Linked DNA regions of Homo sapiens: all the other regions are linked to region 2. The links come from fine-mapping of genetic effects on gene expression. A gene starts in region 2. Each other region holds a variant in brackets. All regions are shown on one strand. Distances are from middle to middle.

Region 1 (2,762 bases), 40 kb before region 2:
GTAGGGTGTATGCGTGCAGGAATTTATTCATTTCTTCTAGATTTTCTAATTTATTTGCATAGAGGTGTTTATAGTATTCTCTGATAGTAGTTTGTATTTCTGTAGGGTCAGTGGTAATATCCCCTTTATCATTTTTTATTGTCTATTTGATTCTTCTCTATTAGTCTAGCTAGCAGTCTATCTATTTTGTTAATTTTTTCAAAAAACCAGCTCCTGGATTCAATGATTTTTTGGAGGGCTTTTTTGCGTCTCTATCGCCTTCGATTCTTCTCTGATATTAGTTATTTCTTACCTTCCGCCAGCTTTTGGATTAGTTTGCTCTTGCCTCTCTAGCTCTTTTAATTGTGATGTTAGGGTGCTGATTTGAGATCTTTTTAGCTTTCTGATGTGGGCATTTAGTGCAAAATTTCCCTATTAACACTGCTTTAGCTGTGTCCCAGAAATTCTGGTACATTATCTCTTTGTTCTCATTGGTTTCAAAGAAATACTAGATTTCTGCCTTAATGTCATTATTTACCCAGGAGTCATCCAGGAGCAAGTTGTTCAATTTCCACGAAATTATGTGGTTTTGAATGAGTTTCTTAATCCTGAGTTCTAATGTGATTGCACTGTGGTCTGAGAGACTGTCTGTCATGATTTCAGTTCTTTTCCATTTGCTGAGGAGTGTTTTACTTCCAATTGTGTGGTTGATTTTAGAATAAGTGCCATGTGGCACTGAGAAGAATGTATATTCTGTTGATTTGGGGTAGAGAGTTCTGTAGACTTCTACTAAGTCCACTTGATCCAGATCTGAGTTCGAGTCCTGAATATCCTTGTTAATTTTCTGTCTCACTGACCTAATACTGACAGTGGGGTGTTAAAGTCTCCCCCTATTATTGTGTGGGAGTCTAAGTCTCTTTGCAGGTCTCTAAGAACTTATTTTATGAATCTGGGTGCTCCTGTATTGGGTGCATATATATACATTTAGAATAGTTAGTTCTTCTTGTTGAATTGTTCCCTTTACCATTATGTAATGCCCTTCTTTGTCTGTTTTTATTTTTGCTGGTTTAAAGTCTGTTTTGTCAGAGACTAGGATTGCAACTCCTGCTTTTTTTCTTTGCTTTCCATTTGCTTGGTAAATTTTCCTCCATCCCTTTATTTTGAGCCTGTGTGTGTCT[C/T]TGCATGTAAGATGGGTCTCCTGAATACAGCACACCAATGAGTCTTGACTCCTTATCCAATTTGCTAGTCTGTGTCTTTTAATTGGGGCATTTAGCCCATTTACATTTAAGGTTAATATTGTTATGTGTGAATTTGATCCTGTCATCATGATGCTATTTGGTTATTTTGTACATTAGTTGATGCAGTTTCTTTGTAGTGTCATTGGTCTTTATATTTTCATGTGTTTTTGCAGTGGCTAGTACCAGTTTTTCCTTACCATATTTAGTGCTTCTTTCAGGAGACATTGCAGGGCAGGCCTAGTGGTAACAAAATCCCTCAGCATTTGCTTGTCTGGAAAGGATTTTATAGAAAGCTTAGTTTGGCTAGATATAAAATTCTGGGTTGAAAATTCTTTTCTTTAAGAATGTTGAATATTGGCCCCCAATCTCTTCTGGCTTGTAGAGTTTCTGCTGAGAAGTCCATTGTCAGTCTGATGGGCTTCCCTTTGTAGGTGACCTAGCCTTTCTCTCTGGCTGCCCTTAGTTTTATCCTTCATTTCGACCTTGGAAAATCTGATGATTATGTGTCTTGGGGTTGATCGTCTCATAGAGTATCTTAATGGTGTTCCCAGTATTTCCTGAATTTGCAGGTTGGCCTGTCTTGGTAGTCTGGGGAAGTTCTCCTGGATAATACCCTGAAGTGTGTTTTCCAGCTTGTTTCCATTCTCCCCACCTCCTTCTGGTACTCCACTCAATCGTAGGTTCAGTCTTTTTATGAGGTCCCATATTTCTGGTAGGCTTTGTTCATTCTTTTTTCTCTATTCTTGTCTGCATGTCTTATTTCAGTAAGGTGGTCTTCAAACTCTGATATCCTTTCTCCTACTTGGTCGATTCAGCTGTTGATACTTGTTTATGCTTCACGATACTTGTGTGTGCTTCACAAAGTTCTCGTGCTGTGTTTTTCAGCTCCATCAGGTTGCTTATGTTCCTCTCTAAACTGGTTATTCTAGTTAGCAATTCCTCTAACCTTTTATCAAGGTTCTTAGCTTCTTTGAATTAGGTTAGAACATGCTCCTTTAGCTCATTGTAGTTTTTTATAACCCATCTTCTGAAGCCTACTTCTGTCAATTCATCCATCTGATCCTCCGTCCAGTTCTGTGCCCTTGATGGAGAGATGTTGTAATCATTTGGAGGAGAAGAGGTACTCTGGCCTTTTGGGTTTTCAGCATTTTTTCATTCTTTCTCATCTTCATGAGTTTGTCTAGTTTCAGTCTTTGAGGCTGCTACCCTTGGATGAGATTTTTGTGGGGACCTTTTATTTGATTGTTGTTGTTGATGCTGTTGTTGTCACTTTCTGCTTGTTTTTCTTTCAGTAGTCCAGTCCCTCTTCTGTAGGGCTGCTGCAGTTTGCTGGTGGTTCACCTTCAGGCCTTATTCATCTGATTCGCTCCCATGCCTGGAGATGTCATTAAGGATGCTGGAGAGCAGCAAAGATGGGTGCCTACTCCTTCTTCTGGGACCTCTGACCTCAAGGGGCACCAACCTGATGCCAGTAGGATCACTCCTGCAGAGGGTATCTGACAAGCCCTGTTGAAGGGTCTCACCCAGTTGGGTGACACAGGGAGC
Region 2 (2,762 bases):
GAACGTCCAACGCAGCTGGCTGGGGGAACACGAGGCCTTGCAGGGAGCGAGCCCCGGCCCCGGTCTGACGGAACACAGGCGACGCACGTGAAGTCCAGGCCCTATCCCAGCGCAGGCGGGCCTCCAGCGACCCACAGTTGTCACATATCCGGCCAGCGCCGACTCCCGAAGGCGCACTCCCCATACTCCACTCCGAGCACCGGTCCCATCGTTAGGGAAGGTCCCCCTGGATAGCAAGGCCGGGGCCCAGGATCTGCGAGACCCACCCCACCCGCCCCGTCAGAGCCCAGGAGCAGCAACAGGTCTGCGCTCTCCCCGGGCGGCGCTCTGCAGACCCTCGACGGGCCAAGGGTGCCCCCAGCCCAGCCGTGCGCTCAGGCCGGGGAGATGGGCGGAGGACTGGGGCTCCCGACTTCCTTGACAGTTTCTGCGCGTCAGAAACTGAGCAGACACGGGGCCCGCGCCACCTCGCCCGCCGCTTGCCCCACTCCGCGAGGCTGCGCTTCCACCCGGGTCCGGGAGGGCCGGCCCGCGTCCCGGGTATGAATGGGGCTCTTCTCCCCAACAGCGGGGAAATCCCGCCACCGCCCTCCACCCCGGTCCCCGGAGCCCGCGGTGGCGCAGGTTTGCCCAGCAAGCCCCTGAATCGGCAGACAAAGGGGCACCGGAGGAAAAGCCGAGCGCTTCCCTAAACTTACCGGCCACTTCCCCCTCCCCAAAACAAAGGAGCCCCCCGCCGACCTCCGTCTCTCCCCGCAAGGCGCGCCGGCACTTCGGGGAGCGGCCACCTCGGGGTATTGTTCAGGCTCCTGGGAGCGCGCCGCACCCCAGTCCGAGCGCCGCGGGGACAGTTGGCGACCTGCACCTACAGGAGTTCCAGGGGCGGGTGGAGCGTTCGGGCGCCCCGAGCCGCCGGCCGGACCCTGGAGGGTCAGCGCGGGACCCGCCTCCCCGCAGAAGTTTGCGGACCCCGCGCCCGGCCCGCCGAGCCCTGCGCACTCACCTCGTCGCGAGCAGCGCAACTTGTGGCGGCGCCGCGCGCCCGGCCGCGCTCCGAACCTCCCTCCAGCCGGCAGCCTCCGAGTCCCGGCCGTGCGGCGGCCGAAGAGGGCCCGGCGCCCCGGAGCAGCCGCGCGCCGCCCCCGGGCCGCCCCCGCCCCGCCGCCGCCGAGTCCCGGAGAGAGCGCGGGCGCTGGAAAGTTTCGGTGGCGAATGGCGGCCTGAGGGCGCTGCGGCGGCGGCGGGGCGGGGGCGCTGGCGGCTCCTCGCTCCCAAGCGCGGAGTGGGGGCGCTGAGGCGGGCGCGGCGGCGGCGGCGGCGGCAGCGGGAGAGGGCGGGACAGCGGGAGGGACTGGCACGGACAGTGACCTCCACGGGGAGCTGCCGCGAGCGCGCGGACCCCAGCCAGGAGGACCGCCAGGGGTCCGCCCCCGCCGCCGGCCCCTCCCTCACGGCCGTGGGAGGGGACCCGGCGTACCACCCGGCCCCGCCCCTGCGCCCCGGGGGAGCCGCGTCCCGAACCAGCCCCTCCCCTACGAGGGTAGGGACTCCGGCCCTGCCCCTCCCCCGCGGCTCCTAGTGGGGACCCGCGTCCCAACCCAGCCCCTGTCCCACGGTCGGGGGACCAGCGTCCCTACCAAGCCCGCCCCGCTCCCCCACGCCTAGGGTGGGTGAGGGGAACCCGGGCCTCTCCCTAGTTGCTCTGGTCCCGGTCCCTTCCCCGTGGCCTCCGTGGGACTGAGAGGACCCCAGGGCTACCCCCATCACATCCCAAACCCAGCCTTTCCACGACTGCCTCGAGGGGACGGGAACCTCGGCCACCCCCTCAGTTTCTAGGGGGCAGGGGAACCTCGATCACTGCTAAAGTGTTACCCTCCCCCACCCCAAAAAGGAAGCCACCCGGCTGCCCCAACAGAACCCCCTGCCACCTGCCCGATGGTGAATCTCCCTCAAAATCGGCGTCTTAGAAGACACCCCAGTAGTCTTTACCCCAGCTCAAAAAGTGGGGGTTCCGGCGGAGCCTCGACCTTTGCAAAACACCTCCCAAGAAGAGCCAGAAATGCTTAGGGACAAACTCAGACACACAGGCATAGGCGCCAGGAACTCGGGTGTGGGGGCTGAGGAGGTTGGGGGGACCTGGGCACTCGGGCCTCATCACTCCCACCCCAACCCCCCAGGCATCAGCCCTCTGGCCCTTGCAAAGTGCTTTATGTTGCAATGGCTTACACGGCCTGGCCCCGGTGTACCTAAGTCCCCAGCGCTCCTTCCTCCCCTCCACGTAGGCTACTCCCAACCACTCGCAGCCTTAATTCAGTTAAACAGATCTCCACTCCCCCTCCCCAGCACCTCTGGGGTCAGCCTCGTTGAATATTTTTCAAATATTCTTGCCCCTTCCTTTACTATATAATGAGCTTCGTGCTAAGAGCCCGGTACACTCAGCAATCTAAACTATAACCTCACTTGCTCTTCCTCGAACTCTAGACCATTTGTTGTTCTGGTTGTAGGGGGAGGGGGACCTAAGGTGAGGTTTTTGTTTTTTTGTTTTTGTTTTTGTTTTTCTGAGGAGTCTCGCTCTGTCGCCCAAGCTGGAGTGCAGTGGCGCGCTGTCGGCTCATTGCAACCTCCACCACCCTGGTTCAAGCAATTCCCCTGCCTCAGCCTCCCGAGTAGCTGGGATTACAGGCGCATGCCACCACGCCCAGCTAATTTTTTTTGTATTTTTAGTAGAGACGGGGTTTCACCATATTGGCCAGACTGGTCTG
Region 3 (2,762 bases), 98 kb before region 2:
TCTCTTGACCTTGTGATCTGTCCACCTGGGCCCCCCCAAAGTGCTGGGATTACAGGAGTGAGCCATCTCGCCTGGCCTCCTCCTAAAATTTGTCTCCTGCTCTAGTCTGTACTACAAGAGCCACTGCCCTGAAAACACCTTTGTTTGAGAATTCCTTCTGCCTCTTTCTGTTTCCAAGATCCCAAACCTCCCCCTTTCTTGGTTTACTCCCTCACTTTGGTGGGACATATTCTCCATAAGTTTCCTAGAAGTGACATGTGAAAGTATTTTCAGTAGAGACGAGGTTTCACCGTGTTGGCCAGGCTGGTCTTGAACTCCTGACCTCAAGTGATCCACCTGCCTTAGACTCCCAAAGTGCTGGGATTACAGGCATGAGCCACCACGCCCGGCCCAAACATCTTTATTCTATCCTTAATTAATAATTAGTGGAGGAACACCTTCAAAATTCTGAGGGAAAATTATTTTCAAAGAAGTCTATGTTCAGTCTGTTTTCTAACTTCACGTGTTGCTGTTAAGAAATACAATGTCATTCTGATTCCAAGATCCTTCGTGTGACTCTTTTTTAAATCCGGGAAGTGCATAGATACTTCCTTTATGCTAATGTTCTAATATGTCATGACAATGAACTTTGATGTAGTAAATTGTTTTGATGTGGTTAATTTTTCTGCATTGCCCCCTAGTCCCTTGGTATAAAATTTTTCTTCTTCAGATTTAAGTTTTCCCTTTCTTCCCTGGAATTCCCAATAGGGAAATATCTGAATAACCATTGTTCTTCTGTCCAATAAAACTTTCTGCACTACATCTTCCTTGTCTAATAAGGTATCCACTGGCCACATGTGGCTACTGAGCACTCAAAATGTGGCTAGTGTGAGACAAACTGAATTTTACATTTTACTTAATCTTAGTTAAGCTTAAATACTCATGTACAGCTGGTGGCTACCATATTAGGACAGCACAAATCCAAAGACTATGCCAAAAATTTTTTAAAATACGAAAATCAGGGCCTTTAGCACCAACTCTCAGGTGGTATTCAATTTGTTTTCAGAAGAAAAAATTGAGTATAATTTCCAAATCCCACCATTACTATTTTCATAATAAGGTTCTGTGATTTCATTCCTTATGGCGTCCTTCCTTCCTCACAGGAACTCAAGGGCCTTGTAGAATGGTTATCACACAAGTGGAAAGGTCCCTTTGTGCATAAACATGGATTTTATTGCCCCTGAAGTATAAACAGTACTCCTTCAAGTACTCCTCCTTTTTTCCCCTTAGGGGAGCTGCTGAGGTTCCTCACGGAACAGTAACATGTATTATAAGAGAAGCAAGTATTAAAAAACACCTAAAATGAACAAGGCCACTGAAGGCAACTTCCTTATATGGCAAGCCGACTACTCCCCGTGTCTTTCCGCAAGCTGTGGTAAGAAACGCTGCTTCTGTATACTGGATGCTCTGGGTAGGGCAGAAGCCAGAACGGCAGCCAGGGCATTCTCCTTGCATGTTTCACTCATTCCATAAATACCACAGATATA[G/A]CAAACTGTCGTCCAAGCATTCTAGTGCCAAGGACATAGACAGAAAGTAGAATAAAACCAAAGTGCAAAAGTTCTGTATACCCACTTCAAAGTACATGAGCCTCCTGTTCCATTCGAATGACTGGAAACCACTTTTCATTAGAGCTTAGTGCCTAGAATACAGTGGGCATGTAATAGGTGTGTACTTAAAACAAATACAGAGCAAGATCAAAACCCAAAGGCAATCACTGATTTTTTTTTTTTCTGCTTTGAAGAAAAACAGACATATTAATGCTGTATATATTGAGAAATAAATATTCAGGAAAAATCTTTCATTTTTCTATGTAAAGATTCATGGAGAAATACATTTTCTTAGTCTACTCTTCAGGCAAGTCATTGAATATCCATTAGTTCCTATAAAATATGGAATCTTATTAAGCTTGTAGATTTTACAAGTTCAGGGTAAAAGTATGAGCCACTGAAATAAGGAGAAAAAGAGACATTAAAGTCACACAAACTTGATTTCCTCTTTAATGTCTTATGAGGCTTGATAAACAATATTTCATGCTTGTACAACTGGCAAAATCAGTACTTCTAAACAAAAAACAAGCCCACAGGAAATTTTAACAAGCTATCAGCTGCATAATATGTTTGTAAGCACTTATTATTATTTAAATTACAGCAAAAGATTAAATTTTATTTAGTGGCATGAAACTAATCTTTAGTGAGAGAAAGAAAAAGAATCACATTTAAAGATGATACATTAAAGTATTAAGGTAATATGATCTTTCCAATTCAGCAAATTGTCAATTAACAGCAATTCAAATCTGTCCCCGTAGATACAACTCTGAACTTTATGAAGATAATCCTCACGTAATACCAATCAGTTTTTTGTTCAGAGATGACATAGCGCATCTTGAGGTAGAAAAGAATCCTAATTAATCTCTTCCTCATGTCCCAAAGCACTGTCTCCACATTTTGCAATGAGGATGAAGCTTAATTTTAAATCTAATTGTCAAGCACTTTATTTATTCACTGTAGTTATGATAAAAGTTTCTGAACATCATATGGTCCTGGTACTCACGTTTCAGTTTCCATCATTTGCAAAACACTTCTGACTCCCTCCTCACCTGGAAAGGTCAACAGTACTGTCTTCAATTTCATTTAACAAAACAGCCAGCAAATCCCTTCAGGAAAGCAATTAAATATGCTCAAACAAATTCAACTATTCACTTACATAAGTATCTGAAAACCTAG

Which allele goes with the higher level. Positions count from the first base shown, and alleles are read on the strand shown. Sizes are in standard deviations (SD) of each study's normalised expression.
For the expression in subcutaneous fat of the gene that starts at base 1,393 in region 2, allele C in region 1 goes with a lower level than allele T (small effect, 0.16 SD a copy in GTEx).
For the expression in fibroblasts of the gene that starts at base 1,393 in region 2, allele A in region 3 goes with a higher level than allele G (small effect, 0.14 SD a copy in GTEx).

What was found. PIP is the estimated chance that this variant, and not a neighbour inherited with it, causes the effect. A credible set is the group of variants that fine-mapping cannot tell apart.
Region 1: its variant is the best candidate, but not a certain one, in a credible set for the expression of TBL1X in subcutaneous fat (GTEx, PIP 0.58).
Region 3: its variant is the best candidate, but not a certain one, in a credible set for the expression of TBL1X in fibroblasts (GTEx, PIP 0.72).

Annotation. Positions count from the first base shown.
Region 1 is chrX:9,503,961-9,506,722 of GRCh38, reverse strand. All of the region lies in intron 2 of TBL1X (transducin beta like 1 X-linked), which reads right to left. Among named protein-coding and RNA genes, the nearest start is that of TBL1X, 40 kb to the right of the region's middle. RefSeq lists an enhancer at 2,622-2,762. The variant C/T (reference allele first, on the strand shown) is at 1,158.
Region 2 is chrX:9,463,689-9,466,450 of GRCh38, reverse strand. It overlaps TBL1X (transducin beta like 1 X-linked), which reads right to left and starts at 1,393. Exons shown (of 18, transcript NM_005647.4): 1 at 1,004-1,393. RefSeq lists silencers at 418-567, 868-1,007, 1,128-1,707 and enhancers at 1,938-2,137, 1,965-2,762.
Region 3 is chrX:9,561,767-9,564,528 of GRCh38, reverse strand. The region is part of intron 2 of TBL1X (transducin beta like 1 X-linked); the gene reads right to left. Among named protein-coding and RNA genes, the nearest start is that of TBL1X, 98 kb to the right of the region's middle. The variant G/A (reference allele first, on the strand shown) is at 1,527.